3 linked regions of the Homo sapiens genome follow. The main gene of each other region encodes a partner of the protein of the gene in region 2 in a complex. Each region holds a gene or a part of one and is shown on either strand. Other genes may lie near its edges.

What was found.
Region 1: the proteins of GDF5 (region 2) and RGMB are in contact, whole or in part, in a crystal structure (PDB 6Z3J), measured with the Homo sapiens proteins. Residues at the interface, in NP_000548.2 of Homo sapiens: Leu396, Arg399, Phe435, Pro436, Leu437, Arg438, Ser439, Asn445, Val448, Ile449, Leu452, Ser455, Met456; in NP_001353437.1 of Homo sapiens: Gln57, Thr60, Phe63, Val64, Thr67, Ser68, Leu70, Asn71, Tyr88, Leu103, Val104, Ser107, Ala108, Leu110, Gly111, Ile112, Asp114, Leu115, Gln118.
Region 3: the proteins of GDF5 (region 2) and BMPR1A are in contact, whole or in part, in a crystal structure (PDB 3QB4), measured with the Homo sapiens proteins. Residues at the interface, in NP_000548.2 of Homo sapiens: Arg399, Phe435, Pro436, Leu437, Ser439, His440, Glu442, Pro443, Asn445, Val448, Ile449, Leu452, Ser455, Met456, Pro458; in NP_001393490.1 of Homo sapiens: Gly65, His66, Cys67, Pro68, Ile77, Thr78, Phe83, Ile85, Glu87, Cys100, Met101, Lys102, Glu104, Gly105, Phe108, Gln109, Asp112, Ser113, Lys115, Ala116, Gln117, Arg120, Ile122.

What each region holds. Positions count from the first base shown.
Region 1 is NC_000005.10:98,768,839-98,776,739, forward strand, and holds the start of RGMB (repulsive guidance molecule B isoform 1 precursor), read left to right. Parts: upstream 1-4,824; 5' UTR 4,825-5,114; coding exon of another isoform or gene 5,115-5,232; coding exon 5,233-5,368; exon of another isoform or gene 5,369-6,351; coding exon of another isoform or gene 6,352-6,364; intron 6,365-7,901. UniProt on the Homo sapiens protein: Member of the repulsive guidance molecule (RGM) family that contributes to the patterning of the developing nervous system. Acts as a bone morphogenetic protein (BMP) coreceptor that potentiates BMP signaling. Promotes neuronal adhesion.
Region 2 is NC_000020.11:35,435,207-35,442,837, forward strand, and holds the start of GDF5 (growth/differentiation factor 5 preproprotein), read right to left. Parts: upstream 3,023-7,631; 5' UTR 2,723-3,022; coding exon 2,092-2,722; intron 1-2,091. UniProt on the Homo sapiens protein: Growth factor involved in bone and cartilage formation. During cartilage development regulates differentiation of chondrogenic tissue through two pathways.
Region 3 is NC_000010.11:86,885,528-86,892,629, forward strand, and holds part of BMPR1A (bone morphogenetic protein receptor type-1A isoform 3 precursor), read left to right. Parts: intron 1-4,534; coding exon 4,535-4,697; intron 4,698-6,599; coding exon 6,600-6,702; intron 6,703-7,102. UniProt on the Homo sapiens protein: On ligand binding, forms a receptor complex consisting of two type II and two type I transmembrane serine/threonine kinases.

The sequences.
Region 1 (7,901 bases), on a different chromosome or scaffold from region 2:
TAAGGATCATTTACGGAGAGAAAGGTGTGCATTCTGCGGCTGCCGGCGGGCAGCTAGAGAACGTGGCGGGGGGCAGCGCATCTGGCGCCTTGGCCGGGGCGCGGAGTGGGAACAGCCCGCACGCGTCCGCTGCCGCCCTGCCTGGCGACGAGTGGCACAATCGCCCACCAGGAATCGGCTGGTGCCGCGGGTGGGCGAAGGCAGCGCCGCCGGCCCGGAGGGCGGCGCGGAGGGTGGCGCTGGCGGCGTGAAAGGCGTCTTTGTGCAAGATTGAGTGTGGTGGGGGGAAGGCGAAGAGAGAACTGATCCAGGACCTGGACGCGGGGGTCTGCGGCGCCCCTACGCCCCCACGCCCCCAGCCGTCCGCAGTGCCGGAATGAGCCGGATAGCGCCGGCAGGGGGCAGTGTGGCGATATAGGGGTTGCCGGGGGGAGAGGAGGGTCTCTGTTCACCTCTATTTGAGGCTGACTGGGGAGAAAGCTGCCTGGAGGAAGCTGCTGGGGTGCGGGGGGCTGAGGGATTTGGCTCCCCGCCCTCTCCCCTAGATGGCGGAGAAATCGGGCTAGCTGGAAGGGCGCAGCTCCTCTCCCAGAGCTCATTCTGGAGTCGGAGAACTGGGAGAGCGGCCCCCGAGGCGGAGCCTCCCTCCCGCCCCGAGTCGCGCTGCCCCCCACCTGGGGGAGAGGGGCGGGCGCCGCGCTGCCTTCCCTCCGCGCCTCGGCCGCGTGGCTTGCGGCTTATTTTCCCAGCTGGCAAGCGTCGCGCTGCAGACAAGGGAATGCCTGTGGTGAGTTGTTTATTTTGTTGAAGTTTGCGGTGGGCCCGGGGGACGTGGGGGGCGAGCGGCAGGCAGCGGCCGGGACTGTTTTGTTTAGGTCTCCATCCACCTGTGGGGTATAAATCTGCCAGCCTCAAGGCGGCGGGGGACCGGAGTGAGAAAGCTCTGACGCTCCCAAAAGCCCCTTTTCGCAACTTACAGATCTAGGACCACATTTGATTCTCCACGCCTGGAACCGGCTAGATCCTAGTTTACGCTCACCCCGCCCTCCAGCCTCCCATCAACGCTTCCCGCACCCGCTGTGTGCAGGGCTGGCGCTCCGCAGAGCAAACAGCGCCCACGACCCAGGGACAGCTGGCCACCGAAGTCCCTCCCCGGCGCCCTTCCCCGTTCCTTGAGGATAGGGGAGCTGAGGTTTTCATGTGAAGGGCGCCCATGAAATTCGTGGGAACTTGTTCTGGCGTCTTCTGGAGTGGAGTTCTTTCAGGGGTTTCGGGTCTGCCCGGGACTACAAAATGGGATCCTGGGTTGGCTGGAGTTTCCCAGACTAGGCTGGAGAGAGGTCGGCTGTTGGCTCGCGGGAGAGCCCAGAGGAACCCCTTGGGCGATGGCAGTCAAGACCGGCGGCTGCGTTTGCCTGGAAGAAAAGCCTAAATACATTAGCGAGCTGGTAAAGCTTTTAAGGCCTTCTTGGGAGCGAGTGGCTGGCTAATGAGAGGTTAATTTTGTTTCGAAGGGAAGGCTGCACTGGTTTCCTGAGATAAATGGACAGGAAGCGCATTACCTCCGCGCGCTGGCAAGCGGCTCCCAAATGCTTTTTGCACCTGCCGTTTTGAGCGGTGAGAGCAGCGGCGGAGCCCGCAGGGATTGCGGGGGCCCGTTGTCTACGAGCGGGTGATGAGCCCCCCGCAAGCCCCGGGCTCTCTCCCTCCGCGAGTGCATTGCTCACGCCAAGCTTTGGGACTCTTCTCTCACACCCAGGTCCTGCGTGTTCCGAAGTTCAGGGGCCCCCTGATCCCGCTGAGCCCCCTCCAGGAGCGAAAGGGTTAAGAATGATGTAAGTACAGGCACTTGATTTCTCAAGTCGCCCGCTTGGCCCTCTTCCAAGTTGTACTTTCCTTATTTTCTCTCCTTTCCTTTCCTTACTGTTCTAACGCTTTTTAATAAACTTTCACTCTTGCTCTGAAAAAAAAAATGATGTAAGTACAAACCACGAGCTGCTTGACGCTGAGCTGTTGGACTCCGGGCTATTTCAGCCGCTGCTTTGGGTACACAGTGGCCGGGGAGCAGCCGGGGAGCCCTTACTCTAGAAAGGATTGCACAAATCGCAAGCTTAGGTGATCTGTTAAGCAGTCAGAGATTCTCCTGTTAGATTTCTGGAAATGGAGACATATTAACTGGAGAACAGTTAAAAACATCACGTATAGGCTCAGGAAATGAAACTGCATCTTGTTTAGAATCCATTAGTGTTTCTGGCATGTGTTTTAATTCTGTCCACTTGCACGTTCATGCCGTAGTATGCTTTGCTGGATTCTCCGGATGTACTGTTCAGGTCTCCTCCTTCCTTTCTGAAAACAAAGAGAAAGGGAGAAAGAGTACCAGTGGCAAGAAACAGGGTGGATGTGTGAATTACACAAGTCATCAGCCACTTCATGATTTTTTTTCTGATTAAAACATAAAACTTTTATAAGTCACCGATTTTTTTGTTTGTGTTCTAGCTCCCTCCCCGATTTTTCTTTGTACAATATAAAGTCGTTTGTAACTTGCAGCTCACGGGCTTGAGGAGTGGCTGCGGTATAAGCGACTATTCACTACGCTCTTGCTTTCCAAGCCAATTCCTGATCTTGTGAACAGTACGAATTTACCCGCGAGTGTGTCAACTGACCTATGTCTTGAAAATAGGAACCACCTTGCGGTTTACTTGTGAAAATTAGCATTTTCCTCTAGCGGCTGAACACTTATGCAGCAATAAAAAGTGAATTGTTAGGCTTATAAATCTCGAGCTTGTCAAATTTTACAACAGAGGAGCAATAAAGCACCTTATAGAGATGAAGTTTTTCCTCTGAAGAACAGTTCCGTTTAACGACACCAGGATTTGCAATGACTCGAGGACGCCCTCTATTGATAGGAAAATCTAGAGCACCCGTGTACTTATGGAACAGGATATAGGGGGAGGGGAGTAAAAAATCATAGAAAGTCACGAGTGGAAAGACCCAAACCAAACAGAAATTATTGATCCTTAACTATTGAGTATATGCTTTGAAGTATGATCAATAAAGTGAGATGCTGCTTTTATAGGGGTCGAATTAAATCTTGGGTTAAGAGAAAAAAATGTAGTCTTTGTTAGCCAAATACTTTGAAAATCAGTATTATGTTTGATTACTTTTTTAAGATGCTTCTTAGTATGTCATGAACTGTATCTAATTATATGAAGTAATTGCAAGATAGTAAATTTTTGCTCTAATAATACTTAGTCCGCAGCATTATCTAAAAATGTCATATAACTTCCTCCCCAAAAGTCATTTCTCCAGGCAACTGTGAAGCTATTATTAAGCGTATTATGGATATACACAGGCTTGGATTATATTGTGGATAGTGAAAGGTGTGTTTACCCCTTAAGTCATCATAGTATGTAACAAGTAAGTAATGAAAAGTTACAGTAAAAACAGATAGGCATCCTTCATTAGGGACCTAGTGGTTTGGGCAATTCAAAATGTGTCTAATAAGTGAGCTGGTGAGACTGAAGGTTTGCCCCTCAATTATCCTAGTCCATTGATTAGCTCATTTAAACATGTGTGGAATATCAGCATGTCCGTGGTTGATAAGAAATTCCTAATTAGAGATTCTGAGTAACATAGCGGGTACAGTTGCCAACTACGATTTGGATGTTAGTGGATTTTAAATGGCAACCCTGTGCTGTTTGGGGAAAGGCAAAGGCGAGGGCGGTATCAAGTGTCTCTCAGCCTTGAGGTCATTCTTGAGATTAGATACCACTTCACACCTACCGATAACAAATTGGAATCTATCATCAGTCTCATAACTGCTTTTCTGTCTCCACTTGGCAGCCTCTTTCTTTGTAGACAATTGTCTTTTTCCTCACTTTCGGACCCATCCGATCATAAAAGGAGAAAGTGAGCTGCCATTGAATTAATCCGTAGAAATTTGTGGAAAATTTAAATAATCTGTAGAAATTTGTGAAAAAGCCACTGAGCAACAACAAATCGTGGCATAATTACACTGCATAAAAACCCACCACTCTCATTAATTACACTGTAACCGAACGTTGAAGTTTGCCCACTCTTAGACCTCTCCTTGCCGCTTTCAGGAAGGGAAATGTCAAACTAGAACACCTGAGCCTCGCACAGCTGCCAGCGAATTCCGGCGGCAGTTCGCGGGTACCTTCCCAGCCCATCCTATCTGCTCCGGACCGCGGGTGACATTCAGATTTCCAACACCGCCCCGAGCTTGCTTTACCAGACACCCTCAAACGACTCGGAACGCGGTTCCGCAGATGTGATTGGCTGAAAGGGGACCTGCCGCGCGGCGCTCTGTAAAAGCGCCTGCTTCCTCCAAGGAGGTGGAGCTGAAGCTGGCAGGGCCAGGGCAGGGAGGGGTAATTAAATTAAAAAAAAAACTTGGAGGGAAGATGAATCGGATCACATTAATTCAAGGAGAGGTCAAAGGCCGGTACCTTTGTAACGCCGGCGAGAGTAAGACTTGCGGTCGCCCATTTCTGTTGGGCGCGAGGAAACAGTAAATCGCGGAAGGGGGTAGAGGGGGAAGGAAAGGGAGCGCGAGGCAGCATGCGGCGCAGGAGAGAGGACTTGGAGTCGATGGACAGGGAACTCGAATTACACTGAGCGGGCGGGGGAGAGGGCCCTCTGGGTCCTGCGATTGGCAGGCTGAGTCGGGCTGACGTGCGGTCACAACCAATGGGGAGGAAGGGAGGGACACGGCGGGGGATTATGGCGTCGTGGATTGGCGGGCACAGGGCGGGGCGGGACGGCAGTGCGGGACTGAGATTGATCGACCGCGGGGGCTGCCGCGCAGAGATATCCGGGCCGCCGGTGGGTGGTCGCTAGGGCTGGGCCAGCCTCTTGGAGGTCCACGCCCGCCGAGCCCACGCTGGCTGGGGCCGGGGTGCCGGCGCGCTCGGGACTCGTCTCAGCAGTCGCTCACGGTCTTTGTGTCTTCTCTTCCGCCCCTTTCCCTGCCTGCCGCCTCCGGCCGCCACGATGCCCCTGCGCCCCGCTGCTGCCGCCGCGGACTGGCTGCGCCGGCTGCGCGCTGCTTGCTGCGGCGGTGGTGGCGCCCCATCTGCTACACGGGCCTGAAGAAGGAAGAAGAGGAAGCGAAGCGCGCCCCCCGGCCCATGCCGCAGCCACGGGCCCAGACCCGCCACGGCGCCCGCGCCGCCGCCCTCGCCGGAGCCCACGAGACCTGCATGGACGGGCATGGGCTTGAGAGCAGCACCTTCCAGCGCCGCCGCTGCCGCCGCCGAGGTTGAGCAGCGCCGCAGCCCCGGGCTCTGCCCCCCGCCGCTGGAGCTGCTGCTGCTGCTGCTGTTCAGCCTCGGGCTGCTCCACGCAGGTAGGACGGGAGCGCGCGAGGGGAGCCAGCCCCGGGGCCTAGGGCTTTGTTCCCAAATAGCCCCAGGTCTCGAAGGCGCTCGCCGGGGCGGAAGGGCGGCGTGGCGCAACGGGAAAGGCCTCCCGAGCCCCTGACACGCACCTCTGTCGGGCTCCGGGCCACAGTAACGCAGCCACCCACCGGGCGGCCGCCGGGCGCAGAGACGAGCCTTCTCTCCACCCTCCCCGCCTTCGGCTCGGACCGCTGACAAATCTCCCCTCCGACAGCCGCTTATCAAACATTTAGCGGGCGGGGGCCGCGCGCCCGAGACAAATGTTCCGGATGCTTTATTGCTCTCTGCGCTGGTGTTTACTGAAAGTCAGGCTCGGATCAGGTTTCCGCCGTCGCAGCCGCCTCGGAGGGAGACAAGGAGCCTTGTGCTGCTTTTCTGGAGTTGGGGGTGGCGGCGAGGCGAAGGAAGTACACCAGATGGAAAGATTTTTACCAGATTTTGCAAACCTGGGAGTTAATCTCGAAGTAACGTCAACTTTTTTGAGCAGGGATTTCTTTCGTTTTGGCAAAAGCTGCGTTTGTTCAGCGATCAGCCTCCCGGGAAAAGCTCGTGTTTTGTGACTAGCCGGGTGTCTTCGGGCTCCGTGAGGGGTTGACAGATAACCATGCTGCCTTCTGGAGGTCGGCGCTTCCCCAGCCTTGAGGCGTATGTTCCAAGGGAAGTAAGCCTGCAAATGAGCCTTCTACCATGTGATACCTATTTTTCTTTTTAAAAAATCGTTTCATGAAAATCCAGGACGCTCTTCACACTATTTTTTTCTAGGAATTTGCCTAGACAAAGAATTTTTTTTAATGCTAAGGTTGAAAGGGTCATTTTCCTTTAGTCTTGAGAACAAACAGCATTAGATAAGTTTCTTTTCCTTCCAGACCTTTTTTGTCCTGTATATATGAGACACTTCACAACGTTCTGGTCTGGAGAATCCTGAACTTCGATGCCACCCAACTGTGCGGAGTAATTTTTACTTATTAAACCATACCCGCCATGCTAAAAATCAGGGAGGTCTTTTAAGTAATGGGGGGGAAAATGTGACATCTGAGGAGACTTAATTTACTTTGCGTAGCTTTGCATTATGATGTAATAGCTGCTTTTTAACACCGACAATTAGGGAAAAGACGGCTTAATAAAAAAGTGTAATAGAAAGTTTTAGGATGATTACGGCTTTCAATTAGTAACCTAAGAACCTTAGAAAATAGTGTCAATCTGCATGTAGTTACGTGGAAAATTTTTCTTGACATGTTAAAAGATATATTCAGGAGTGTTTGTGCGAAAAATATGTGTCCATAATACCAAAATGTAAGTTTCATGAAATGGAAATTGTGCTAGGTGGGATTGTGTCCCCCTTGGCTGCTTGGATATTGTTTCCCATAGTTGCCATAGGATCCTGTGACAGAATTGGAATGTGGTCCCTGAAGGTTTCTTTGCTAGCCCGTGAAAGGCATACTAAGTTGGCTTAAAGGTTTAGAAAAGTAGGGTGTCTTCGTTCAAGAATTTGGAATGTGAAGCTCCCAGTATCTTCATGTGTCCTCATTTAAGTCACCATTAGATTCAGCCCAACAATGTGGTAAGCGATTTCTATGGACAACTTGTTGGAGTGAAGCGATTAATCCTGTTAAAGAAAAGAACGCTCCTTTTGAGAGATTTCTTTGAAGAGTGGTGCTATTTAAATGCCCGGGTTGTTTCTCAGATAAGGGAACCCAGCAAGAGTGCCAGTGCTCTTTGCAGATGGACTACTATATGTTTTATGCCTGGATCCTTATCATCTGCCTCAGCACCCCATATGGCTCCACATTTCACTTAATTCAGCTTCAGAATACCTCATTTCTTTTATTATAAACTGGTGATTGTGCTGCAGATTCACACGTGTAGTCCTGGTGTTAAAGAAACTGTCTTGAATGGTGAGGTCTTTATGTCTGATTCATTCAAAAATGATGAAATGAAAGCTCTAGACCCACAAATGCTTTAGCATGTTCAGTAACTGGTGTGAAAATACTGTCACACTGATCACAGATAATCTGACCCAAAAATAGAGAAATCTGTAGCTGCAGAGTTTTAATTCTGCCCTTGGGGAATGAAAAGAGTATGAAAAGAGTACCTTTAGTTGCTTTATTTTATTTTATTTTTTTTAAGCAAACCTCTGCAATTCCTGAATAGAGATCCAATATGGGAGTTACTTGCTTACTCATACACTTCATGGCCTTCTTGGCTACATCCTTGAGATTGTTTCTGCTCCGCATTGTCTTGGCATTTTGACAGGAGGCTTACTTTACCGCCTATAACAGGCAAAGTGTGCGTTGTCGTTATAAATTCATGAAGCCTGGATATTTCTGGGTGTATGCTACAAATTAGTCATTATATAGAAGCCCACAAGGCAGCTGAAAATGCTGACCCAATCGCACTTTCTATTTAGCCCTCTTCGCTCCCATCATCTCTGTAGCAGAAGGCTGTTGGAAGCCTTAGCCAAAGCAAAAGAACCCCGGGAGA
Region 2 (7,631 bases):
TTGGGAGGCTGAGGTGGGTGGATTGCTTGAGCTCCGGAGTTCGAAACCAGCCTGCACAACATGGTGACACTCTGTCTCTACAAAAAATACAAAAATTAACCAGGCATGGTGGCGTGCACATGTAGTCCCAGCTACTCAGGAGGCTGAGGTGGGAGGATTGATTGACCCCAGGGAGGTCAAGGCTTCAGTGAGCCGTGAATTCGCTATTGCACTCCGGCCTGGGCAACAGAGAAAGACCCTGGCTAAAAAAAAAAAAAAAAAAAAAAAAAAAAAAAAAAAAAAAAAAAAAAAATACACGCTTTTCCAGAGGAGAATCCCAAGGTTCAGAGAAGTTAGATGACTTGCTCAAATTCTCAGCTGCTTCCACCATCCCTTAAAGGAGACCTTGGTGCTCTTGTTATGCAGATGAGGCACAGAGATGGGGAGTGACTTGACTAAGGTCACACAGCAAGTTAATGACAAAGCTGGTCCACACTGACCTACAGCCCAATTTTCCTGGCTTTCCAGTGCAAGGATTTTGTTGCCTATGTGTCTTACTCTCCTGAGCATGTGTGTGTGTTACAGTTGTATGCATGTGTGTGATTGGGTTCATATGTGAATATGAAAGAGTGTATACGTTAATGACGCATTATATGTATAAATGATTGGGCTTGTGTGACTATTTGAAGAGCACATATATGTCTGTATATGCATGATTGATCTTGTGTGTGTATGTAAGAAGGTGTGTGTGCACATGCATATGTGTGTGATTCGGCATGTGTGTACGTGTGTGATTCAGCACGTGTGTGTGTGAGTCAGCATGCATGTACATGTGTGATTCAGCATGTGTGTATAAACATAAGGCTATGTATGTGTATGTGAGAAGCTCAGTAGTATCTCCGAATCAGCATGCCCTCCTTCCTAAATTGCAATTTGCCATTGGGGAGCTTTCATATATTGCTCTAGAAGGTGACTAATTAGGCCTTTAAACTCCCCATCTCCCCCTCTCCAAGCTCCCTTAGTGCTGGGGGGCACACGGACTTATTTTATGAGCCCCCAAGGGGTCACAGCTTTCCCTGGCTGGGCAGGCAGCCAGACCACCTCCCCCACCTCAGCCAGACCTGCTGCCTCTGTGCCTCCCCCGCCCCCTGGCAGCCCCCTCCAGGCCAGCTCTAATGAGGAGCCTCTCCCACCCTCTGACCCCTCCCCCACCCTGCCAGCCTAGGACCAGAGCAAATGAGCTGCAGGCAACTTGAGCGACCAACAGCCCACCTCCCTCTTCACACTAGGAAGAAACTGAGGCCCTGAGAGGGGGAGGGACTTGCTTAGATCACACAGCAAGTGGAGAGGAAAAGCTGCAACAGTAACATTAGGTGGGCCGAGAGAGACAGAGGGGAGCAGGTAGTCTCTGGAGTTAATGAGGAGAATGAGGCATGTTCAGGACAGCATCTAAAGTTTTCATGTTGGAAGGGCTCTCAGAAACCACCCTGTCCAACCCCATATAGGTGTACAGATGGGAAAACGGAGACCCCAAGTGAGAAGGAGCTTTCCCAAGGTCATACTGCGAGTTAGGCCCTGGGTCTGCTCCCTCCCCATGTATCTGAACATCATTCCATGACTCCAAGATGCCCCATTTACTGTGTGCACCTCTCTTGCCTCCTCTATCCCCTTGCCTGAGGGCAAAGTTGCAGAAGCATGGGGACCTCAAGATTCATTTCTTTCTCTGCCGTCTGAGACCGCCTACAAACCTGTGAAGCTTGGAAAGTTCGGCCAGCCCAGCAGGTACAGATGCACAACTGAGCAATCAAGTCTCGGAATCTGGTCTCCAACTCTGCCACGAACTGGCAGGTCTTGTCTCTTCTCTAGGCTTTAGTGCCCACTCTGCACCTTGCAGGCGTTGGACCTGGTGCTTCCTAGGTGCCCTCCAGCCCTGATGTGTGGGCAGCCTAGGATCTGCTATGTGTGAGATATGTGTCAGTGTCCCCAGACACCCACCCCGGGCCAGATGCACACAGTGTCTCCCACCAGGGCAGTGCCAGGGCTTTGAAAGCCCCTCCATTCATGCAGATGCCCCTCCCTCTGAGCCGTGCCCCTGCCACCCCGCCCCCTCACCTTGCCCTTTGTCAATAAAGCTGGTGATGGTGTTGGCCAGGCCAGCCTCCAACTTCACGCTGCTGTTGCCTCCCTTTCTGTCAGCATCGGACAGCGTCCTGTACAGCGAGAGCATGTACTCGTGGGGTGTGATGGGGGGTGGGCGAAACGGCTCCTTGGGCTCTCGTGGGGGCCCGGGCTCCCTGGCCTTCTTCAGCAGGAAGGAGCTGGGGACAGATCCTGCTTTTGGGGGTGCCTTGCCTCCGGGAAGCTGTCCTTTTGGGGTCACAGTCCGGGCTGTAGCCTGCCTTGTTTGGGGAGGGTGTCCTGGCTTGGGTTCAGGGCCGCCCGGTCTGGGGGGCAGCTTTTTGGGTTCATCCTTCTTGGGCTGTGTCAGGCCTCCTGTCTGCCCGGTGCCTCCCTTTGCCCTGGCATTGGCATTGGTGGCCCCCCCACCATAGCTGTGACCCCCTGGCCTGAAGACGTTCCGGGCCAGGGGGGGCCTCTCCTTGGCCTCTGCTTTGGCCAATCCTGGCCTGGTCCCCTGGGGTCTCTGGCCCAAGTCAGGGGCACCCAACACAGTGCAGATGAATTCCAGGTCCAGCCAAGCCAGGTACCAAAGCAAGAAAGTGAGGAGTTTGGGGAGTCTCATCCTCTGGCCAGCCGCTGAATGACACCAAAGAGAACAGCGGCAGCAGCGAAGGTGCCTCTGGTTTGGCAGGAAAAACCATGAAAGGAGTGGACTTTCAAAAGCAGCGGCAGCAGCAGTAGCAGCAGAAGGAAAGGCTTTCTCCTCAGTCTGAGACTCTTGAAGTCTGCCGGGTGTGTGTTTGTATCCAGTCCCATAGTGGAAATGCTCTCGTATCCAGACGTGCACCGTCTCCAGTCAGCAGCTGAAAATAACTCGTTCTTGAAAGGAGAAAGCCGACCGCCCCCTTTCTCCTGCACAACTGACTGAGGGCTTGAAGGAGGCTTGTATAAGGCTGAGGGATTTTTCCAAGAAGGAAGAATGGCGTAATGCTGCCTGTGTGCTCCAGTTTTTTTTTCCCCCTAGTTTTGAATCCTTTCCAGTGAAAATACTTCACACACACACACACACACACACACACACACACTCACAGGCCTGCAGGTGCTCAGAAAAATCTTTTACAAACCTGAACTCAGGAATTGGAAACGGAATTCCAACCCAAACCAATTTAATTACTCTCTGATGTCATGCTGTCTAAACTCATTTAAGTGCGATATATTTATGTGAAAAAAATCACCGCTGCCCTTTCGAGGCCATGGCTCACGGGGGCTCCTGGCACAGAGCCCTGCAGCGGGACTCTAGGCTTAGGGGGCCTCCCCCTCCACAGGGCAGACTCAGGGGTCTTCACCTCCACCTCATGGAGCAGCCCACCCCACTTTCCCGAGGAGAGATGCTGAAGAATGAGCTCAAAGATCTTAAGCCCCAGAAGCATGGGGAGTGTGGGTTTGTAGTTAAGTTCTTAGAGTGTTTTTAAAGCAGTTTCAACTCCTGCATCTAGTCTGGGACCTGATTTGTTATGCGTGTGTGTGTGTGTGTGTGTGTGTGTGTGTGTGTGTTTATGTGCCTGTGTGTGTGTGTGCCTGTGTGTGTGTGTGCCTGTGTGTGTGTATTGGGAGTAGGGACAGCACAGATGGCAGCATTTACCCACATTTTCTTTTATTTTAATAAACTTGTGGTGACCCAGAGACTGAAAAATATCAGTGCCCACTACACCCCCTCCCTACCCCCAAATGCCATTGACTGAGTGCATATTCTTCAGGCTTGGGGGCACTGTCGCCCTTAAGTTCACTCCTTGGATGGCGGCAGGTCCAGGGTGTACCCCACCACCACCCCAGCAGAGACGTCCTCTGAGTTTTCTTAGACAAGACTGGCTGAGTCTGGGGCAGCAGCGGCCCCTACAGGAGGCTGGAAAAGCCATTTCCCACATGACGCTTTTTTTTTTTTTTTTTTTGAGACGGAGTCTCGCTCTGTCGAGTGCAGTGGCATGATCTCAGCTCACTGCAATCTCTGCCTCCCAGGTTCACGCCATTCCCCTGCCTCAGCCTCCCCAGTAGCTGGGACTACAGGCCCCTGCCACCACACCTGGCTGATTTTTTACGTTTGTAGTAGAGATGGGGTTTCACCATGTTAGCCAGGATGGTCTCGATCTCCTGACCTCGTGATCCGCCCGCCTCGGCCTCCCAAAGTGCTGGGATTACAGGCGTGAGCCACCGCGCCGGGCACAATTTCCCACATGATGTTTTTCTGGTAGCTCTGGAAGGTCTGAATTCCAGCTGAACTCAAGGGTTTCTTAAAGTGCCTCATTGAAGTATGGAAGATCCCTTCCTCTGGGGAACCTTCGCCGTAGAGCCCCTGGGCAACTTAACACAGGGTCAGCGGGGAAAGCTGTTCGCTTCACCTGAAATATCCTCCTCTCTCTCTCCCACAACTGGAGGAAGCACTCTACATCCTGAGAAGTTTAGCTGAAAATTTACCTCCTTCGGGAAGCCTTTCCTCGTCCCCAGACAGAGCCAGTTACCCCTTCTGTACATTTCTCTACAACAACACTTTTCACGCTGTAAGAAGGATGGCGGGGGAGAAGCAATAGTCAGATAGGCTTCCTTCTTTTTTTTTTTTTTTTTTTTTTTTTTGAGACAGAGTCTCACTCTGTCACCTAGGCTGGAGTGCAGTGGTGCGATCTTGGCTCACTGTAATCTCCACCTCCTGGGTTCAAACGATTCTCCTGCCTCAGCCTCTCGAGTAGCTGGGACTACAGGTGCACACCACCATGCCTATCTATTTTTTGTATTTTTAGTAGAGACGGAGTTTCACCATGTTGGCCAGTCTGGTCTCGAGCTCCTGACCTCAAGTGATCCACCCACCTTGGCCTCTCAAAGTGCTGGGATTGCAGGCATCTCTACCAAAAATACAAAAAATTAGCCGGGTGTGGAGGCAAAGGTTGCAGTGAGCCGAGATCGCACCACTGCACTCCAGCCTAGGTGACAGAGCTAGAGTCCATCACACACACACAAAATAAGTAAATAAATAATATTAATAAAATAAAAAAATTAAAAACAGACTTGTTCCCACTGAACCAGTCCTCTCTGGCATCCCTCCCTTCACTCCCTCCTCACCACCTCTGTCACTGCCCTGTCCTCCTCATTGCTTGCCTCGCTATGATTCTCCCCTATAACTGGCTTCTAGGCCTCCAGGCTCTCTCTGGTTCAACCCTCTACTAAAAGCTACCCATCAAACAAGTGCCAACCCACGTGCCACCTCCTCCATGAAGCCTTCTTGCATCCTCCAGAAAATGCACACTCCCCCTGAGCTGCCATCACACATTTTCTGTGCTCTTTTACATTTTTTGGCAGCTGAAAGTTTATTCAGTCTCTGCCTCTGCCCCCTATCCCAACACAGTTTGTTTCTTCCACTCTGTATTTTGTCATATTTTAAAATCATAACTTAATTCCTTATAACTATAATAATTTCTTTACATACCTGTCTCTCCCATTAGATTATGACTAGACTGTGCCATATTTATCTTTGAATTATACCCAGTGCTTGGCAGAGGGCCCAGCCCACAGCAGCTCTCAGTACGTGTTATATGAATAAATTAATCTCTAACTGGCCCTTATTGACAAAAATCATCATTTTCTACTTTGAGGTGTAGTTATTTGTGGACATAACCTGCCTTTCCCATTAGACTCTAAGTTTCTTGAAGGGAAGAATTGTCTTGCCACTTCTTAAGCATTTTGTAAGCTCAGAGAGTGAATAAATGAATGAGTTGAACAACCACAATGTCTCTGTACGTGGCTTGATAAAGAGCAAGGATTCTGGAGACAAACAGACCTGGTTTTGAAGCTTGGTTCTGCTATTTATGTATTGTGTGATCTTGGGAAGCCTCTAAACCCCTCTGAAACTCTAAACAGTGATAACGATAGTGCTTACCTCACAGGACTCTTGTTGGAGATTCAATGAAGTAAATTGCGGCCAGGCGCAGTGGCTCACGCCTGTAATCCCAGCACTTTGGGAGGCCGAGGCAGGTGGATCACGAGGTCAGGAGATCAAGACCATCCTGGCTAACATGGTGAAACCCTGTCTCTACTAAAAAAATAAATAAAATTAAATTGCATAAAGTGATCAACTATTAATGGCAATTGTTAATGATAGCTTTTTTTTTTTTTTTTTTTAGATGGAGTCTCACTCTGTCACCCAGGCTGGAGTACAGTGGCATGATCTTGGCTCACTGCAACCTCCACCCCCCGGGTTCAAGTGATTCTCCTGCCTCAGCCTCCCAAGTAGCTGGGACTACAGGTGCGTGCCACCACGCCCGGCTAATTTTTGTATTTTTAGTAGAGATGGGGTTTCACTGTGGTAGCCAGGATGGTCTCGATCTCCTGACCTTGTGATCTGCCTGCCTCGGCCTCCCAAAGTCCTGGGATTACAGGTGTAAGCCACCATACCCGGCCAATAATAGCTATTTTTTTTAAAGCACTTATTCCAGTCAACTAGACTCTGGGTTTTGTACTCCATTGCATTTATGTGTTATTTATCTTCATGACAATGCTATGAAGGTAGTGGTTTTCATTGTTGTTTTTTGAGACAGGGTCTTACCTGTTGCCCAGGTTGGAGTGCAATGGCGTGATCATGGGGCTCAGGTGATCCTCCCACCTCAGCCTCCCAAGTAGCTAGGACTACAGGTGCACATCACGATGCCCAGCTAATTTTTGTATTCTTTGTAGAGACAGGGTCTCACCATGTTGCCCAGGCTGGTCTCAAATTTCTGGGCTCAAGTGATCTGCCCGCCTTGGCTTCCCAAAGTGCTGAGATTACAGGTGTGAATCACCACATGTGGCCGAAAGTAACTTTTTTTATTTTTTTGAGATGGAGCCTCGCTCTCTCACCCAGTCTGGAGTGCAGTGGCGCAATCTCAGCTCACTGCAACCCCCGCCTCCTGGGTTCAAGGGGTTTTCCTGCTTCAGCCTCCTGAGTAGCTGGGATTACAGATGTGTACCACCACGCCCAGCTAATTTTTGTATTTTTAGTAGAGATGGGGTTTCACCATGTTGGCCAGGCTGGTCCCAACTCCTGACCTCAGGTGATCCACAAAAAAGCATTTTGTAAGCTCAGAGAGTGAATAAATGAACGAGTTGAACAACCACAATGTCTCTGTATGTGGCTTGGCCTCCCCTAGTGCTGGGATTACAGGCATCAGCCGCCGTGCCCAGCCCGAAGGTAACTCTTGATACCCGTCTTTTTTTTTTTTTTTTTTTGAGACAGAGTCTTGCTCTGTCACTTAGGCTAGAGTGAAGAGTGCAGTGGCTCAATCTCAGCTCATTACAACCTCTGCCTCCCAGTTTAAGTGATTCTCCTGCCTCAGCCTCCCAAGTAGCTGGGACTACCGATGCGCACCAAGACGCCCGGCTAATTTTTTGTATTTTTGTGGAGACGGGGGTTTCACCATGTTGGCCAGGCTGGTCTCGAACTCCTGACCTCAAGTGATCTGCCCACCTCGGCCTCCCAAAGTGCTAGGATTACAGGCATGAGCCACCAT
Region 3 (7,102 bases), on a different chromosome or scaffold from region 2:
TTTAATTCGTCTACATTTTAAGTCACATGTGGCTAGTGGCTACCATATGGGACAGCACAGTTGTAGACATGCCACCTTTTCCCTAGTTCTTGCTTCCTTGTACTTGACTTTCCTTCTGCTGATGTCTTCCTGGTTTCTATTTAATTAATGATGCAGACTGTTGTTGCAGAATTCATTAGGCTACCATTGCTGATTATCTCATATGTATAGTGCATCAGTAGCCCATTGGTCTCACCAACCGTTTGCCATCTGAGTTCTGTTGTAGACATTCTATCTTAAGGTTGCGGCAGAGGGCATTTATTTGCTGTAGAAAAAGGAAGCCAATAAATTATTGGGAAAATATGAAAAATTACTTAGCCAGGAATAAAAATCTAGTAAAATCATTGATGCCAAAAATTGCTGTTGATGACAAGGACCTGTAAATGTGCCTGTGTATGGTCATGTGTCTCTTGTAACTGTTTGTCTCTTTGTATGTATATGTTTTCATTTTTTCCTGAGATGTTATACTTAAACATGTAAGCTATTAAATATTTTGTGTGTGTTTGTTTTGAAATATAACCTATACCCCCAGTCCACCCCAGGGCTCGTAGTTTATTCTTTGTAAATACACGGGACTTGTGGGTGGCGAGAGATTGACATGTTCAGAACTGACAGAAGGCCATGTGCCAAGTAAAGTGATGATGGTGAGGCCTGCAGGACCCAGATCCTGTTGGGCCCTGGGAGCACACAGTGGAGGTTGGATTTTATTCTGAGTGCATTGTGGAGCCATTGATTGGTTTTATATAGGAGTGACAGATTTGTGTTTATAAAATGTCTCTGGCTGCTCTGTGGAAAATGGATTGCAGGGACCAAGAGCAGAAGCAGAGGGAACAGTTGGAGACTTCTTACCTTAGTAGAGGCATGATGTGATGGGCCTTGGTGACAACAGCGGAGTTGGAGAAAAATGAAAACAATTGACATACATTTTGGAGGTTGAGCCAAAAGACTTTGGTAAGACCAGGTTTGAGGCAAATCAAGAGTTCATTTAAGACAAGTCAGTCAGGAGATGTCTAAGCAGGTCATGGCTAGAGGGGGTACATCCAGGAACCATCAACAGAGTGGGCGCTGTCCCCTAGGGAGAGCACAGAGAGGCTCTTTCCTGTTACTTTTCTTTGTATTCAATATCTGCTTGGTGAAATCTTGCAAGTTTTTAAGATGTAGCTTAGATTTCATTACTTTTGACACCTAAGATCAGTTTGAGTTTGACACCTAGGATGAGCCTTTTCCTTTGTTTACATGTAAACACCTCCGTATTTTGTCACTTTTTTTTTTTTTTTTTTTTGAGATGGATTTTCGCTCTTGTCGCCCAGGCTGAAGTGCAATGGCTTGATCTCTGTTCACTGCAACCTCCACCTCCCAGGTCAAGTGATTGTCCTGCCTCAGCCACCTGAATACTGGGATTACAGGCGCCTTGCCACCACGCCCAGCTAATTTTTTAATATTTTTAGTAGAGACGGGGTTTCACCATGTTGACCAGGCTGGTCTTGAACTCCTGACCTCAGGTGATGTGCCCACTTTGGCCTCCCAAAGTGCTGGGATTACAGGCGTGAGCCACCGCGCCTGGCCTTTGTATTTTGTCACTTTTCACATTGTATTTATTTGCTTTTGTGCTTATTCCCCCTCTGCTTTCCACCAAGTTTCTCAAGGCCACATATGTGGTTTTGATGCCACATCTTTGCGTTTCTAGCATTTAATACCTTGCCTGCACATAATAGACCCCTACTAAGTATTCTGTTGAATATTTGGCAATAACATAAGCTCCAGATACAACTACTGTAATTGAGTTTTTTGTCTCATGAATTCAAATAGTATTCTAGGAAGTTTCATATAACTTTGAGTTTTTTCATGTATCAGTGATCTTTTAGTGTTCTGATCTTTGTTATTAGTAACATCTTCATTTGTATACTATTTTACATGTAGTTAAGCACTTTAGTAAATATTCATTTGATCTACCTATAACCTCTTGATTTGAATTAGGCAGGAATTATTATCCCCATTTTCTATAGATAGCTGAGGTTCAGAGAGTAACTTATCTGTGCCCGTAACTGCGACTTGAACCCTTCACTTCTTGCTGTTATCTCAAGTGATATTTCTGCCACACTAAACTGCTTTTTCTGTGTCACTAGATTTTTGAAAAATCAGTTGCTGTGATATATTATATACTGTTTGTTTTCCAGAGCTGAATTGATACGTGTCTTCTGTTAATGTAATAGGATTTTAAAGCTGGTCAGGTTCCCTCACCTGTCCTCTAGTCCTGTAGCCTTATAGAGTAAATGAAGCCTGGAAAGGTGACATGGCTTGCCCAAGACCATCCAGCTAGGTAAAGCGGGGTAGGCCCATGGCAAAACAGAATCCCAGTCTCCTCATTTCCTGCTCAGTGGATTTCTTCCCTTCCTGTACCTCCTGCTTCCCCCACCCCATCTTTTACAGTTGATGTTTCTAACATAAAGGAGGTCTTTCCGCTTTGTAGCAATCAGATCCAACGGAAGCCTTGACATTATATTACGGAATTTATTTCTGAAAGGAGAGTGGTGTGGGGGGCGCGGGGATGAGTAATATATGTATGTACACAAACTTCCAGCTTTTTTTTTTTTTTTTTAAGTGTTTTCTCTCCTGGCCGGGCACGGTGGCTCATGCCTGTAATCCCAGCACTTTGGGAGACTGAGGCAAGTGGATCACTTGAGGTCAGGAGTTTGAGACCAGCCTGGCCAACATGGTGAAACCCTGTCTCTACCAACAAAATACAAAAAAATTAGCTAGGCGTTGTGTGGGGTGCCTGTAATCCCAGCTACTCGGGAGTCTGAGGCAGGAGAATTGCTTGAACCTGGGAGGCGGAGGTTGCAGTGAGTCGAGATTGCACCAGTGCACTCCAGCTTGGGTGACAGAGTGAGACTCTATCTCAAATAAAAATGTTCTCTATACTCATTCAGTAGCAAATTCTTTTACTAAATATTCGGTATAAGAAAGTGAAGGTTATTGGCCAGGCATAGTGGCTCACGGCTATATTCCCAGCACTTCGGGAGGCTGAGGCGGGAGGATCGCTTGAGCCCAGGAGTTCAAGACCAACCTGAGCAGTATAGGGAGACCTTGTCCCTACAAAGAATTTAAAAATTAGCCGGGCATGGTGGCATGTGCCCTTGGTCCCAGCTACTCCAGAGGCTGAGGTGGGAGGATCACTTGAGCCTGGGAGGTTGAGGCTGCAGTGAGCTCTGATCACATCACTGTACTCCAGCCTGGGCAATAGCGTGAGACCATGTCTCAAAAAAAAAAAAAAAAAAAGTGAAAATTATTGAAACTGAAGGCATGTAATCATCAAAACACTATTTAGCAGCACTTTTTCTGTTACCTGTGTGTGCATATGTGATATTTTTTGTCTTTTCAGTAGTTTATCTCATCAGTATGGTAAATGTAAAATCAAGTCTGTGTTGTGTCTTGAACCACTTATTTAACATTCATAATGAAATACATATACACTTGTCTGTTTGGTTCCACCTTTCATTCCCTTGAGAGTAACCCACAAAGAATGGCCTAGCTGAGTCAGAGAGAGGAAGTAATTACTAGAACAGTTTTTTTAGTTCCGTTCTGCTTCCAGCCTGAAAGATTTAGTACCAAATATGACAGTATCTGTCACTGCAGGCTGCTAGACTCTAGTGTAAGAACATAGTTCTATTTCTGTGAGCTAACTGCTGCCCTTCTATAACCTTCAGTTTCTGCCAGCATCGTCTGCATTCAAACCAATGACCTCGAGGTGAAAATCTCCAGATAACATGATTGGTCCCCATGCTCTCATGATTTCCTTACTTAAGCAATTAAAGGCCAAAGCAAGATGCTTAGTAACTCCTTTTCCACATAGAGGCACAAATAAAGGAAAGCTGGTCACAAGTTTTGAACCAAAGAGTTAAAAGAAGAATCATAACTTGTCTCTATTTAATGATTGGAAACTCTCACAGACTTCTGTGAAGTCTCTCCCCCTTTTGTACCTTTCTTACAAGTGATGACTATATACTTTTACCTGGCAGGGGAGAGACCACGGTCACGAAGGTGGTTTTCCCAGGGCGAGGCTTATTCATTGCACTCCAGATGTGCTGACCCCTGCGATTTCCCCAAATGTGGGAAACTCAACTGCATAATTGTGGTGGTGGGGGACTGCGTTCATGCTTTTCCCTGGTTAAATTAAAAAATTTTTAAGTTATTTTAAAAATATAAAAAACAAGATTTGACTGTATTCTGCCTTGCGCCACTCTTGTTTGTCTTTCACTAGTGCAAAAATTGTGATATAGCTGTCTTCATGTACCCCGCAATACCTGGTGCAGTAATTCTGTGCATAATAATGTATGTCTGTTTGTTGTATGAATGAAATTTATATTTCTAAAGAAACATGCTAGCTACAATTATTGTGATAAGAAAGCTTAACAACTTTTTCTCATTGAAAATTGTCACGAAACAATGAGCTTTTCAGAAATGATTTACTTACAAATTCCATATTTGAATGCAGGACAGAATCTGGATAGTATGCTTCATGGCACTGGGATGAAATCAGACTCCGACCAGAAAAAGTCAGAAAATGGAGTAACCTTAGCACCAGAGGATACCTTGCCTTTTTTAAAGTGCTATTGCTCAGGGCACTGTCCAGATGATGCTATTAATAACACATGCATGTAAGTATTTTATGCAGCCCTTCTTAAGAGTTAGGAGAATAGAGTTGCATTTAGTGCTATTTTAAGAATTATTAAACTTGTCTGCGGTTTTTTTTTCATTCATATATAGTATCTTTCCAGAAAGCCAAAAAGCCTTTTGTTTTGTATATTAGAACATTATTCCATTAAATGATTGATAGGTGAGTTACTATATTAGAATTATGTTATAATGCAGCTTTTAAAATAAGATCAAAGGGATCTAGTATTTAACATCTGAGTTTTTAATGATCTTTTAATCTTAAATTTATTGATGCTCATTTTAGAAAACTTAGAGGTTACCAAAAAAGAAATCAGAAAACTCACTGACAACCTCCTACTTCTTTTTAATTTAAAAAAAAATTTTTTTTTTAACTATAGACAGGATCTTGCTATGTTGCCCAGGCTGGTCTCAAACTCCTGGGCTCAAGCAGTCCTTCCACCTCAGCCTCCCAAAGTGCTGGGATTACTAGGGTGAGCTGCCACACCTGGCCTCCTACTTCTTAATTAGTTGAAATATTTTGCAGATATATATAAATCATATTGTGTTAATTAATTTTATGCTTTTTTCTTACCTGTGAATTTACCAATCCAAATCTGATTTATAAAATGATTTTAATTTTTCTAGTGTATTTCGTGTTAGCTGCACAACATGTTTATATATGATCATGTAATTCTAGTCCATATTTGTTGGAAACATTGACATATTGACTTAATAAGACCAAAAAAAATTGCCTGAACAACTCAACCTCATCAGTCAATTAATTGTCTCCTTGTTATAGAGGCAATAATGAATGTCATGTTTTATACTTTTAATAATTGTATGTTCCCTGAATGGACCAGATAGAAAGCATGAAACTTTACACGTAAACTCTTGAACCTGCATGACGGTCATCGTGTCTTAGGTTTGCTGCTTGTCCCCTGGTGGTGGTGGGCTCTGCGTGGCTGACTGTGACTAGTTGTTCATTTTTACCTTGGTGAGAGTTTGCCAGCAGGGAACTGCTCTCTGCTATGTCACCAAATAATGTTTTGCTAAACTTCTTGTCTGTAGTACCTGCCTGATGTAATGGGCTGTCTGTTAGTAGCTTAGTAACCCAGAGTAAAACTGAATCATCCATTTTAACAGAATTCTGCCCCACACTTAACATTTTCTCCTAACAGAAAACCAAGAATTCTGCAAAATTCTTCTAAGTAGAAGCAGCACAATTCCTGATATTAACAATAAATAGGAGTACAGAAAAAGCTTTTAGAAATTTCTCCCATACCTGTTAAAGTCTATATGAATATATTAAGGGGAAACTCCAGGATGCTAACACTAAAATAAGAATTTCATTATATATGTATGTAAATTTATTGAAAATTTATTCAAAAGTCCTCTCCCTGTTTTCCCATCATATTCAGTAAAAGGTGCCTTTTAGTCCCCTTTTTTTTGGTCATTAAGCCTATTTGTATGTTTCAGAGAAAAGTTTGTTTTTATCTATTATCATATACAATATGGAAGTACTGAAAAAATGGGTAAAAAGAGACAAAGTTATTTTAAAGTATGTTTTCAAAACATGACATAAAATTTTATAAATCAGCTTTCTGTGATCACATGACTGATTAGCAAAGAGAAGTCACATAACTCCTATGTGGAGGACTTGTTTAATTGAAATCCTTTTCTTCTTGACAAAGGGTTGTCACTGGCCTTTTAGATCTTGGCTCAGACATAACTTTCATTTGTCTTAAAACCTCTGGCGTTGCCAATAAATCACGTGTGAATGCAATTCTAAGTCACAAAACAAAGTATTAAAGGCCATCTGTACCTGTTCACATTCAGACTCAAATTTCGTTAGTACTTTCTATGTGAATTTATGTTTTGTTTTGTTTTGTTTTTTTCTGTTTTAGAACTAATGGACATTGCTTTGCCATCATAGAAGAAGATGACCAGGGAGAAACCACATTAGCTTCAGGGTGTATGAAATATGAAGGATCTGATTTTCAGTGCAAAGTAAGATATAATTTGGGACCCATGAGACAAAGAAGGGAGGGGCCATATGAAAGCATCGATTTCCCCCAGGAGAAACATGCCTGGTGTACACATCGCTGTATGTTCACATCAGTAAATATATTGGAGGAATACCTACTGTCTAGATTCTGTCCTGTATTCATATGTAGAATTTATAACTAAATCATTTCTGAAAAGCTAATTGTTTGATTACAATTTCCTTTTTTATTTCCATAGACAGCACCTGGCTCTGTTGCCCAGGCTGGAGTGCAGTGCTGCGATCTCCGCTCACTGCAACCTCAAGCCAGCCTCCTGCCTCAGCCTTCTGAATAGCTGAGACTACAGGTGCATGCCACTATACCTGGCTAATTTTTGTATTTTTTGTAGAGACAAGGTTTTACCA